3 linked regions of the Homo sapiens genome follow. The protein of the gene in region 2 purifies or fractionates together with the protein of the main gene of each other region. This does not show direct contact. Each region holds a gene or a part of one and is shown on either strand. Other genes may lie near its edges.

Evidence for each region.
Region 1: the proteins of GALNT12 (region 2) and OBI1 purify together in Homo sapiens (affinity purification with mass spectrometry; one large-scale study listed by BioGRID and IntAct). This does not show direct contact.
Region 3: the proteins of GALNT12 (region 2) and RAB3GAP1 purify together in Homo sapiens (affinity purification with mass spectrometry; one large-scale study listed by BioGRID and IntAct). This does not show direct contact.

What each region holds. Positions count from the first base shown.
Region 1 is NC_000013.11:78,645,581-78,649,233, reverse strand, and holds part of OBI1 (ORC ubiquitin ligase 1), read left to right. Parts: intron 1-3,653. UniProt on the Homo sapiens protein: E3 ubiquitin ligase essential for DNA replication origin activation during S phase.
Region 2 is NC_000009.12:98,842,086-98,845,738, reverse strand, and holds part of GALNT12 (polypeptide N-acetylgalactosaminyltransferase 12), read right to left. Parts: intron 1,644-3,653; coding exon 1,530-1,643; intron 1-1,529. UniProt on the Homo sapiens protein: Catalyzes the initial reaction in O-linked oligosaccharide biosynthesis, the transfer of an N-acetyl-D-galactosamine residue to a serine or threonine residue on the protein receptor.
Region 3 is NC_000002.12:135,135,663-135,139,315, reverse strand, and holds part of RAB3GAP1 (rab3 GTPase-activating protein catalytic subunit), read right to left. Parts: coding exon 3,384-3,653; intron 2,689-3,383; exon of another isoform or gene 2,561-2,688; intron 1-2,560. UniProt on the Homo sapiens protein: Catalytic subunit of the Rab3 GTPase-activating (Rab3GAP) complex composed of RAB3GAP1 and RAB3GAP2, which has GTPase-activating protein (GAP) activity towards various Rab3 subfamily members (RAB3A, RAB3B, RAB3C and RAB3D), RAB5A and RAB43, and guanine nucleotide exchange factor (GEF) activity towards RAB18.

The sequences.
Region 1 (3,653 bases), on a different chromosome or scaffold from region 2:
AGCTGTTTTGTCCATTCATGAGATCTCCTCCAGTCCTATGGCCTTATATGCTCATGTCTTTTATGGCAGTGACTCAAAACCTGCCTTGTTGAACTTGTCCACTTAAAAATGGGCTTAGCATCACAAATTTAGCATGGCTAAAACAGAATTCTTGATTTTTACCTTGTGCGAAATCTGCTTTTCTTGTCTTTGCCACTTCAGTATATGATAACACCAACTACTGAGTTGCTCAAAACCATTTCATAGATTGGGGAGATAATATTTAACCTTTGTTGTGGGAGCAAATACATGAAAAATACTGATTCTTTTTTTTTTTTTTTGAGATGGCATTTTGCTCTTGTTGCCCAGGCTGGAGTGCAATGGTGCGATCTCAGCTCGCCGCAACCTCTGCCTCCCGGGTTCAAGTGATTCTCCTGCCTCAGCCTCCCAAGTAGCTGGGATTACAGGCACACGCCACTAAGACCTGCTAATTTTGTATTTTTAGTAGAGATGGGGTTTCTCCATGTTGGCCAGGCTGGTCTCAAACTCCTGACCTCAGGTGATCAGCCCGCCTCGGCCTCCCAAAGTGCTGGAATTACAGGAGTGAGCCACCGTGCCCGACCTACTGATTGCTTTTAAATGTGTTTTTTTTATGGAAAGATTGGCAGAGCATCTTGAATCCTCTCATATAATGTGCACGCTTTGCTTTTAAATGTGTTTTTTTTTATGGAAAGATTGGCAGAGCATCTTGAATCCTCTCATATAATGTGCACACTTTTATGTCTTGAGCATTGGCTTTTATCCATTTTCAGATGAGTTTATAACTTATAAAAAATAACTTACTATAAAAGTAGATAACAGTAGATAACTTCCTTTTTTACCTGAGCTTCCTAATTTTGGGGCATATAGTACTTCTAGGAATATTGCAGGGGTGTGTGTGTCTGTGTGTGTGTGTGTGTGTGTGTGTGTGTGTGTTTGGGGGAAGTTACAGGATAGATAAGGCAGTATCTTCTTGGTTTGGGATTTTTGTGCTCTTAAAAGATTTCATGACATAAAGATGAAATTAAAACATATATGAATATATTATGGTCTGGACTTGCAAATCACATGAATTTTTAAGAAAAAAAATAGAACCTGCAAAGAAAGTTCAGGTTTGTCTGCCATTTGAGACTCTGACCAGGAATACTTTATAGATAAGCGTTCACTCCTGGCTGCTGGTAGGACCACTTTGGAAGAAGACTTTGAAACACTATGGTTCATTATTTTTTTTTTTAATGAATCTGTCAAACCAGTTGAAATGAATGCTTAGAATTAAGTTTCTCCAAGAAGTTTAAATCTATTCCAGATTATCTTTGTTTAGTTTTCTTGGGTTAGTGTTCATAATCAAGGGAGAACCAGAATGTTCAGAAAGCCAGACTGAGACCAGAGCTCTTTGTAACGAGACTCAAATGATTACCTGCCCATCATTGAAGGGGGCCAGCCCCTCCACACCTGTGGGTATTTCTCATCAGGTAGGACGAGAGACTGAGAAAAGAAATAAGACACAGAGACAAAGTATAAAGAACAGTGGGCCCAGGAGACTGGTGCTCAGCATATGGAGGACCTGCACCGGCACTGGTCTCTGAGTTCCCTCAGTATTTATTGATTACTGTTTTACTATCTCAGCAAGAGGAATGTAGTAGGAGAGCAGGGTGATAGTGGGGAGAAGGTCAGCAAGAAAACATGTGAGCAAAGGAATCTGTGTCACAAATAAGTTCAAGGGAAGGTACTGTGCCCGGATGTGCACGTAGGCCAGATTTATGCTTCTCTCCACCCAAACATCTCATTGGGGTAAAGAGTAACAGAGCAGCATTGCTGCCAACATGTCTCGCCTCCCGCCACAGGGCGGTTTTTCTCCTATTTCAGAACTGAACAAATGTACAGTAGGGTTTTATACCAAGACATTCCATTCCCGGGGCAGGCAGGAGACAGGCCTTCCTCTTATCTCAACTGCAAGGGGCCTTCCCCTTTTACTAATCCTCCTCAGCACAGACCGTTCACGGGTGTCAGGCTGGGGGACGGTCAGATCTTTTCCATCTCATGAGGCCATATCTCAGGCTATCACATAGGGAGAAACCTTGGACAATACCCGGCTTTCCTGTGCAGAGGTCCCTGCGGCTTTCCGCCGTGCATTGTGCCCCTGGTTACTCCAGAATGGAGAATAGTGATGACTTTTATCAAGCATACTGCCTGTAAACATTTTATTAACAAGGCACATCCTGCACAGCCCTAGATCCCTTAAATCTTGATTCCATGCAACACATGTTTCTGTGAGCACAGGATTGGGGCAAAGTTACAGATTAACAGCTCAGGGCAAAGCAATTGTTCAGGGTACAGGTCAAAATGGAGTTTCTTATGTCTTCCTTTTCTACATAGACACAGTAACAGTCTGATCTCTCTTTCTTTTCCCTACAGTCATGAATAGCTATGCATCTATTAATTCTTTGAGAGGTGGGGGCCCCTTTTAAATTAATGAATACTCAGTAGATTCTTTTAAGGCAGACATAGAGTAGCACAAGCATTTTCTCCGAGAAAAGTGGTTTGTGGTGGTTCTGCCTCTTCATTCTCCCTCTACTTACTCTGCTTTCCCTTGACCTAGTCTTCCAGTTCCTAGTGCAGAAGGGTTCTATACTGTAATTACTATTAGGGAAATATTGAAAATGGCTATGAAATGTTTTGAGTCCCACCGTGAAGAGACCATGTAAATCAAGTGATAAGACTACATTTTTCTGTGCTGTTTTTGTTTGTATTTTTAAATTTGTGCTATTTCAAAAAATATTAAATCATTATTTCCTTCTGACAACTTTCCCAACTAGTTGAATGTTAACACTATCTTAATAGCAGTTAATCATTCAACAGACCTTTGTTGAGTACCTGCTAAGTACCAAGCTATCTTCTAGGCACTAAAGGTTTAGTTATGAATGAGAGTAAAGAAGTTCTTGCTCTCATGGAGTTTCCATTCTGATAAGGGAGATAGACAATAAATATGTAAACACGAGTATAATATCAGGTAATATAAATGCTGTGGAGAAAACCAAAGCAGCTTCTCTTTTCTTTCTTCCTCCTGATAAAACAACTACAAACAGTCAACACACCCAGTTAACCCTGAGCAAGCTACCTAATTTCTTCATGCCTTTGTTTTCTTATTTGTAAAGCATATTTACCCAGTTTACCTCACCAAGTTGTGGTATTTTTAAAAAAAGAGATGGAAAAGGGTTGGGGCGGTGAAAGATGCATGTGAAAGCCGTTTGTAAAATATGACTACAGGCCAGGCGCGGTGGCTCACGCCTGTAATCCCAGCACTTTGGGAGGCCGAGGTGGGCAGATCACCTGAGGTCAAGAGTTTGAGACCAGCCTGACCAATGTGGTGAAACCCCGTCTCTCCTAAAAATAGAAAAATGAGCTGGCGTGGTGGCAGGCGCCTGTAGTCCCAGCTACTCGGGAGGCTGAGACAGGAGAATTGCTTGAACCCAGGAGGCAGAGGTTGCAGTGAGCCTAGATGGTGCCACTGTACTCCAGCCTGGGTAACAGAGCGAGACTCCGTCTCAAAAAAAAATGCTATAAATGTAAGGTATTATTATTTGTGCTTGTTTAAATGGAGCCTGGAGTCAAAGATTTGTGTATTTGGTGTATCT
Region 2 (3,653 bases):
ACAGGGAGACAGGGCTGGTGCATGTCACCTCCTGCCTGCAGTGCTGAATGCTGTGTTGGTGTGGGATGGGAGGAAGGGAAATGGACCCATCGCAGCACTAGCTCTTGGGGGCTCTCTGTGACCTTGACTAGCTACTTCCTCTCCTTTTCCTCAGTCTCTCCTCCCAAACCCCCAATATGACAGTTCCTAGAAGATGTAAAGTGCTGTGCACAAGCAGACAATGTGACCGCTAACGGGAAGACTTGGTTCTTCCCGGACAATGGTTTTCCTACCTGAGTGTACTAGGAACTACCTACAGTGACTGTTAAAAATGCTGATTGCTGGCCCCATCCCAGAGACGGAATAAGGATTCCTTATGTGTGAGGTGGGGCCTAGGAAGCTGCATTTTCTGCATCTTTGACAAGACACCCACCCACCCCACCAGCCCCTTTCAAAAATTCTGACACAGGTGGGTGTTCTTAAGGCGCACAGAGCAGGGCTTGTCACACCATTATCTCCTGAAAAGCTGCTTAAAACAAGAGTCTGGGATTCGGTAGTGTTGGGATCAGTCTGAAAATGTGCATTTCCAAGCTCCCAGATGATGCTGATGGTAGCACTCAGGTACCATCAGCTTTGAGGAAGGCTGTTCTAAACAGTGTTGAAAACCTAAATAATTTAAGGTTGCAGGGGTTGGAATTAAGAAAGTTTACTCTTGACCATAAGAAGGCCTCATATTCAAGTGGCATTGGGGTGAATCCAGATTGGAAAAAACAACATCTGAATCTCTATCCCTTTGTTTCCTGGTGTCTGATAACTCCTTGGTACGGTGAAGCTTCAGAGGCCCAGAACCAACACTTCTCTCCATTCCTGCATCCTCCAAGGGTCCTGTCAACTGCTTTCCAGGGCTGGGGGTCCTTTTCTGGTCTTCAGACTCCCCCAGGACTGAATCTCCCCTGCCCAGCCTGAATTACAGCCCTTCACCCAGACAGATACACCTGGCCCCCAGCTGAGGCAATGTCCCTAAACACCACCTTGCAAGGTGGCCCTATGCATTAAACCTGTCATTCCACTTAACAATTAATTCTAAGGAAATCATCTGAAATGCAGATCTGTTACTTTATCCTTCCTTCTGTCTGACCCAAGGTGTTAGAGGCAGGGTTATTTATAATTGCAAAGACAGGGAGGCAGGGAACCAGTTAACGAAACAGTAATACAGGTACAAAATGAAATATCAAGTGGCCACTAGGAATGATATTCTCAAGGGGTATCTAATAACATAAGAAAAGTAGATGAAGGGAATGGAAATAATGGAATATAAAACATACAGACATTATGACAACTATTTACAACACATAATCTCTGTGTGTTATGTGTAAAAAATGATGGGAAGAAAACACATTTTAATTTTAACAGTGGTCTCTCTGAGTCTGGCCACCCTAGGCTTCTACTTTTTATATTTCCCAAATATTACTTTTACAAGAAAAAAATTCAACTATTTAATTTTTTTAACAAAACACACAGCTTTCTCCTCTTTTGAGGCTCATACCTACCTGATTCTGGCCCATCCCATGACAGAGGTACAGAATGACCTGGTGTCCCACAATCTGGTTTTCATCGGGAGGGTTATAGTCAAAGCAGTAGTCTGTTAGTCCTTTGTTCTGGAGCTAAATAAAACATAAATGTGGCATTTCAGTCCAGATTTATAGACACTAACAGATGCCACACAAGGCTTGGGGAGGGTACCTGGCATGAGAGGAGAGCCTGCTTCAAGAGCTAGACGCAAAGGTAAGAGTCTTTTCTGTACAGCACCTTCTAGCTTTAAAAGTGCTTCCTTGTTCTGCAGGCAAGAATCCTTACCCCTATTTTAAGTTGATAAGCCTGAGGACCAGAGAGATAAACTCTTCATGGCCTGAAAGCTCCTCTCTCTTTCTTTCTCATTAGTAGCAGCCTTACTGCTGTGCAAGTCCAAATATACCTGGGTTGATACCTCGAACTAGATTAATTAAGCTAACTAAATCAAGCAGGCGATAGACACAAAGAAAGAATTATTTTAGGCTGGGTTCAGTGGCTCATGCCTGTGATCCCAGCACTTTGGGAGACGGAGGCAGGTGGATCACTTGAGGCCAGGAGTTCTAGACCAGCCTGGCCAACACGGCAAAACCGCATCTCTACTAAAAATACAAAACTTAGCCAGGTGTGGTGGGGTGCACCTGTAGTACCAGCTACTTGGGAGACTGAGGCGGGAGAATCACTTGAACCCAGAAGACGGAGGTTGCAGTGAGCTGAGATCATGCCACTGCACTCCAGCCTGGGCAATAAGGCAAGACTCTGTCCTCCCCACCACCAAAAAAAAAAAAAGAATTAATTTAAATCACTTTAGAGCATGGTATGTTTGAAAATACCACCTATGAAATATATTCTATAAACAAACTGAGCTGCAAAGAAATTATAAACCTCATTCAGTATAATACTCTAAGCTGTAGTACTGTATTAATTATCTTGAAACTATTTTCAATATATTTTAGGATAAAGAAAATAAGTAATTATGTTAATATTGTTTAAAACCAAGATTTTCAGGGTAAGAAAAAAGAAATATGAGTATGCTATCAAAGAAAATTTTTCAAGACTACATTGGATTTTCAGATATTAATATAAGCTCATGATCTGTTTCTCAAAAATACGAATTTCCTTTCTCTGCCCAATGAGAAAAATTTAGAGCTGTGCTATTTCATGTGGCGGCCACTGGCCACTGTGGCTACTGGACACTTGAAATGTAACTAATCCAAATTGAGATATGCTATAAGTATAAAATTCACACCAGATTTCAAGGCTTAGTATGAAAAAAGAATGTAAAATGCCTCAATGAATAAATACTTATATTAATTATATGTTGAAATGATATTATTTGGGATATACTGAGTTAAACATTTCATTAACTTTACTTTTTTTTTAATATGGTTACTAAAAAAATTTAAGTTACAACGGTGGCTCTCATTATATTTCTGTTAAACTGCATGGTCTGGAGGCAATGACAACGCATAGCAACGGGCACCGCCAGCATCCAGACTGACTCCCAATACCGTTACCCAACAAAGGAGCAGGGCTTCTGGGAGGAATGGCAGGAAATGTTTAAAACTCGAATGGGACAACTTGGCCAGAATCAAGGAGGCTATCAACGCCACTGTAAGGTGTCAAAGACCTCAGAAGCCAAAATAAAGGGACTCCCACTGGCCAAAAACAATTTTCATATATTTTTTAAAAAGATGAATTGGGCTGGGCACAGTGGCTCATACCTGTAATCCCAGCACTTTGGGAGGCCTTGGCAGGAGAAATGCTTGAGCTCAGGAGTTCAAGACCAGCCTGGGCAACATAGCGAGACCTTAGTCTTTACTAAAAATAAAAATAAAAAATTAGCCAGGTGTGGTGGTGCTCACCTGTAGTCCCAGCTACTTAAGAAGCTGAGGTGGGAGGATCACTTGAGCCCAGTGATCCAGGCTACAGTGAGCTACAATGGTGCCACTGTGCTCCAGCCTGGGTGACAGAATAGAAGCCTGTCTCAAAAAACAATACAAAGAAGAAAAGATGAATTGATTGAAGCACACCGGCTATTTAAACACCCATTAGTTTACAATGACACTCAAGAAGAGAAAAAGCCAAAAAAAACAATGAGCCAC
Region 3 (3,653 bases), on a different chromosome or scaffold from region 2:
GCCCACCTTGGCCTCCCAAAGTGCTGGGATTACAGGCATGAGCTACCATGCCCAGCCAAGATCTGTACACTTTATTGTATTAAGTTATAACTCAATAATTAAGTAAATACATGAACATATGTTTTTAAAATGACTAGCAGAAAACATATACAATATATATAACTGTAGATTCACATCTAAAATATGAAGAATTCATATGAATCAATAAGAACAGGGGAGCAACCTAAAAGAAAAATCATAGGCGATTCACAGGAAAGGACGGCTAACGAACATATTAAAAGATGCTCAGGTTCATGAAAATTCAGAAAAATACAATCTAAAACACTGAGATACTACTTTTGACCATCATGTTAACAAAAATTTATATGGTTGGTAATACCAATTGTTTATAAGAAATTGAGGCTGGGCACAGTGGCTCATGCCTATAATCCCAGCACTTTGGGAGGCCGAAACAGAGGATTGCTTGAGGTCAGGAGTTTAGGACCAGCTTGGGCAACATAGCAAGACTCCATCTTTACAAAAATTTTAAAAGTGAAAAAATCAGCCTGGCATGGTGGTGAGCACTTGTAGTCCCAGCTACCTAGGAGGCTAAGGTCAGAGGATCACTTGAGCCCAGCAAGTCAAGGCTGCAGTGAGCCATGATCATGCCACTGCATTCCAGCCTATGCAACAGAATGAGATCCTGTCTCCAAAAAAAAAAAAAAATCCATAAAACCATGTATTAATATGTACACACATATATGTATTATACATCAATGCAGAGAAACAGTTATAAGAAATATAACCCAAACCAATAATACTTGTTAGTTACTTCAAGGAATGCAAGTCAAAATTAGTGGATGGTGGCTTTCACTTTTTATTTTTTTGAGACAGGGTCTTGCTCTGTTGCCCAGGCTGGAGAACAGTGACACAATCATAGCTCACTGCAGCCTTAACCTCCCGGGCTCAATTGATTCTTCTACCTCAGCCTCCCGAGTAGCTGGGACTACAGGTGTACGCTACCCCAGTCGGCTAATTTTTTTTTTTTTTTTTTTGGTAGAAATAGGGTTTACCATGTTGCCCAGGCTGGTCTTGAATTCCTGGGCTCAAGCAATCCAACCCCACCTCGGCCTCCCAAAGTGTTGGGATTACAGGCGTTGAGCCTCTTTCATTTTTACTAGATTACAATTTTCACAATAGAATGTTTTCAGGCCGGGTGCAGTGGATCATGTCTGTAATCCTAGCACTTTGGGAGGCTGAGGCAGGCAGATGGCTTGAGTTCAGGAATTTAAGACAAGCCTGGACAACAGGGCAAAACCCCACCTCTATAAAAACCACGAAAAATTAGCCAGGCATGGTGGCATGCACCTGTAGTTCCAGCTACTTGAGAAGCTGCGGTGGGAGGATCACTTGATCCCAGGAGGTCAAGGCTGCAGTAAGCTACAGTCATGCCACTGCACTCCCACCTGGGTGACAAAGAGAGACTCTGTGTCAAAAAAAAAACAACAAAAAAAAAACAAAACAAAACCCTTAAAAACAACTATTGCTGCTGTTGTTGTTGAGTTATTGCTGTTCTACATCCTAATGGTGTATATGACTTCAAACTATTTTTGAACAGATAAAAGCTAATCATATAATTGAAGGATATTTACTTTTGTTCTCTCTATATATTTTTGGATTTTTTCTTTTTCTTTAAGTCAATAAATTTTTGTTCAAGTAATTCCATGTTGTGATTTCTTCCACTGTCCATCAAGGTCACTTCAGATCCTCTAAAGAGCTGGAGTCAAAAGATTTATCTTCAAGTTAGCCCTTTTTAATGAAACTGATGCTTATTTTAATCCAGCTGTCCTGTTAGCCCATAATTCTTTTATTTTGGCTTCTGTCATCTCCTTTTAATATGGATATACTGATGAAGACTTCAAAATTCACCAAGAATCTTTGGGATCTAACTTCTTCAACCAATTTACTTTAGGGTCCTTTTTACTGTAGGTGGTGGATCTGCCTGGTTCTCAATTTGACACCCTAAGCGATCATACTCAAGAATAGTACAGATGTGTGGAATACGCCAATACCTTTAACTACAGACATCATGTTCTCAAGATAAAAGCCTTTAAAACAAAAAGCCATCGTAGGTATCAAGTCAACATGAAATTGGAATGCAAAATTAATACTGCTGAGGATTTCCTTCATATCCCATGCTGTTTAACTATCTCTTCCACAGTCCTAGAATCAATCTTTTTTAATTAAGAGACAGGGTCTGTCTTTGTTACCCAGGCTGGAGTACAGTGGTGTCATCAAAGCTCAGTGCAGCCTCCAACTCCTGGGCTCAATACTCTTGCCTCAGCCTCCTCTTCCTGAGTAGCTGCAACTACAGACACATGCCCCAATACTCAGCTAATTTTTAAATTTTTGTGGAGATGAGGTGTTTGTTACTTTCTTATACAGGCTGGTCTTGAACTCCTGGCTTCAAGCAATACTCCCACCTTGGTGTGGGGCTTGCAGGCTTGAGCCATTGTGCCTGGTCTGGGACCAACCTTTATGGCTATCAATATTCCCATCAGTTAACTGTCTCAGGTATCATAATATCCCTTCTTATATGTATCAAAACTCATACTGAACAATGAGTTCTGGGTTGCAAAAGAGGATTTATTTTTTGCACCTATCCATAAGTCTTTGTCCACAAGTTAAACAAAAACATACATAAGTGCAGTTGGATTTTCTTTTTTAAACATCTGAGCATTCACTGCTCAGTTTATAAATCACCTTATATATGATGACGTGATCTACTTAAACTTCAAAACATTTCTCAATTACAGAAATGGCAAACCTAAAAGCCCCAAAAGTTTATTTAGATTTCTTTAATCTTTAAACATAGACTTTGTCCAATCTTTTAAAGGTCCTTGATTAAATCAAGACCACATTTATCTATGTCATTGGGAAATCCTTACCTTTAGTTTCTTTAAACAGTCTATATCTTTATCTTTAAACATAAACACTTTTTTTTTCTTTTGAGACAAGAGTCTTGCTCTGTTGCCCAGGCTGGAGTGCAGTGGTGCAATCTCGGCTCACTGCAACCTCCCACTGCTGGGTTCAAATGATTCTCCTGCCTCAGCCTCCCCAGTAGCTGGAACTACAGGTGTGCGCCACTGTGCCCAGCTAATTTTTGTACTTTTAGTAGAGACAGGGTTTCACCATGTTGGCCAGACTTATCTTGAACTCCTGACCTCAGGTGATCTGCCCACCTCAGCCTCCCAAAGTGCTGGGATTACAGGCGTAAGCCACCGCATCTGGCCTAAACATAGACTTTTTGGATAATTTTCCTTACTCAAAGCACTATCTTCTACTAGGATGAAGTTATATAAACCACAAAATAAATTAAAATGGAAAGAACTAGTGCATCCTACCTGGGTTACTGGAATGTAGAGAGGTTCTCCATTATGCAGCAGTGTAAGTTTCCCATGCTGATAGAGCCGTCCTTCCGGCCTTAAATTTGCCATCTCCTTAGGTCCTCCTTTCTTGCCACTCTCTTGTCCATTTCCTTTAAGTTCTTCAGTATCACTTAGGCATTCAAAAAATTCTTCTTCGCTGTCACTCCAGGAATCCCAAGATTTTCCTACCTCTCCCTTTTCCTTATCTGTTTCTTTTAGATTATCTGGCACCAACTGGTCTCCTGC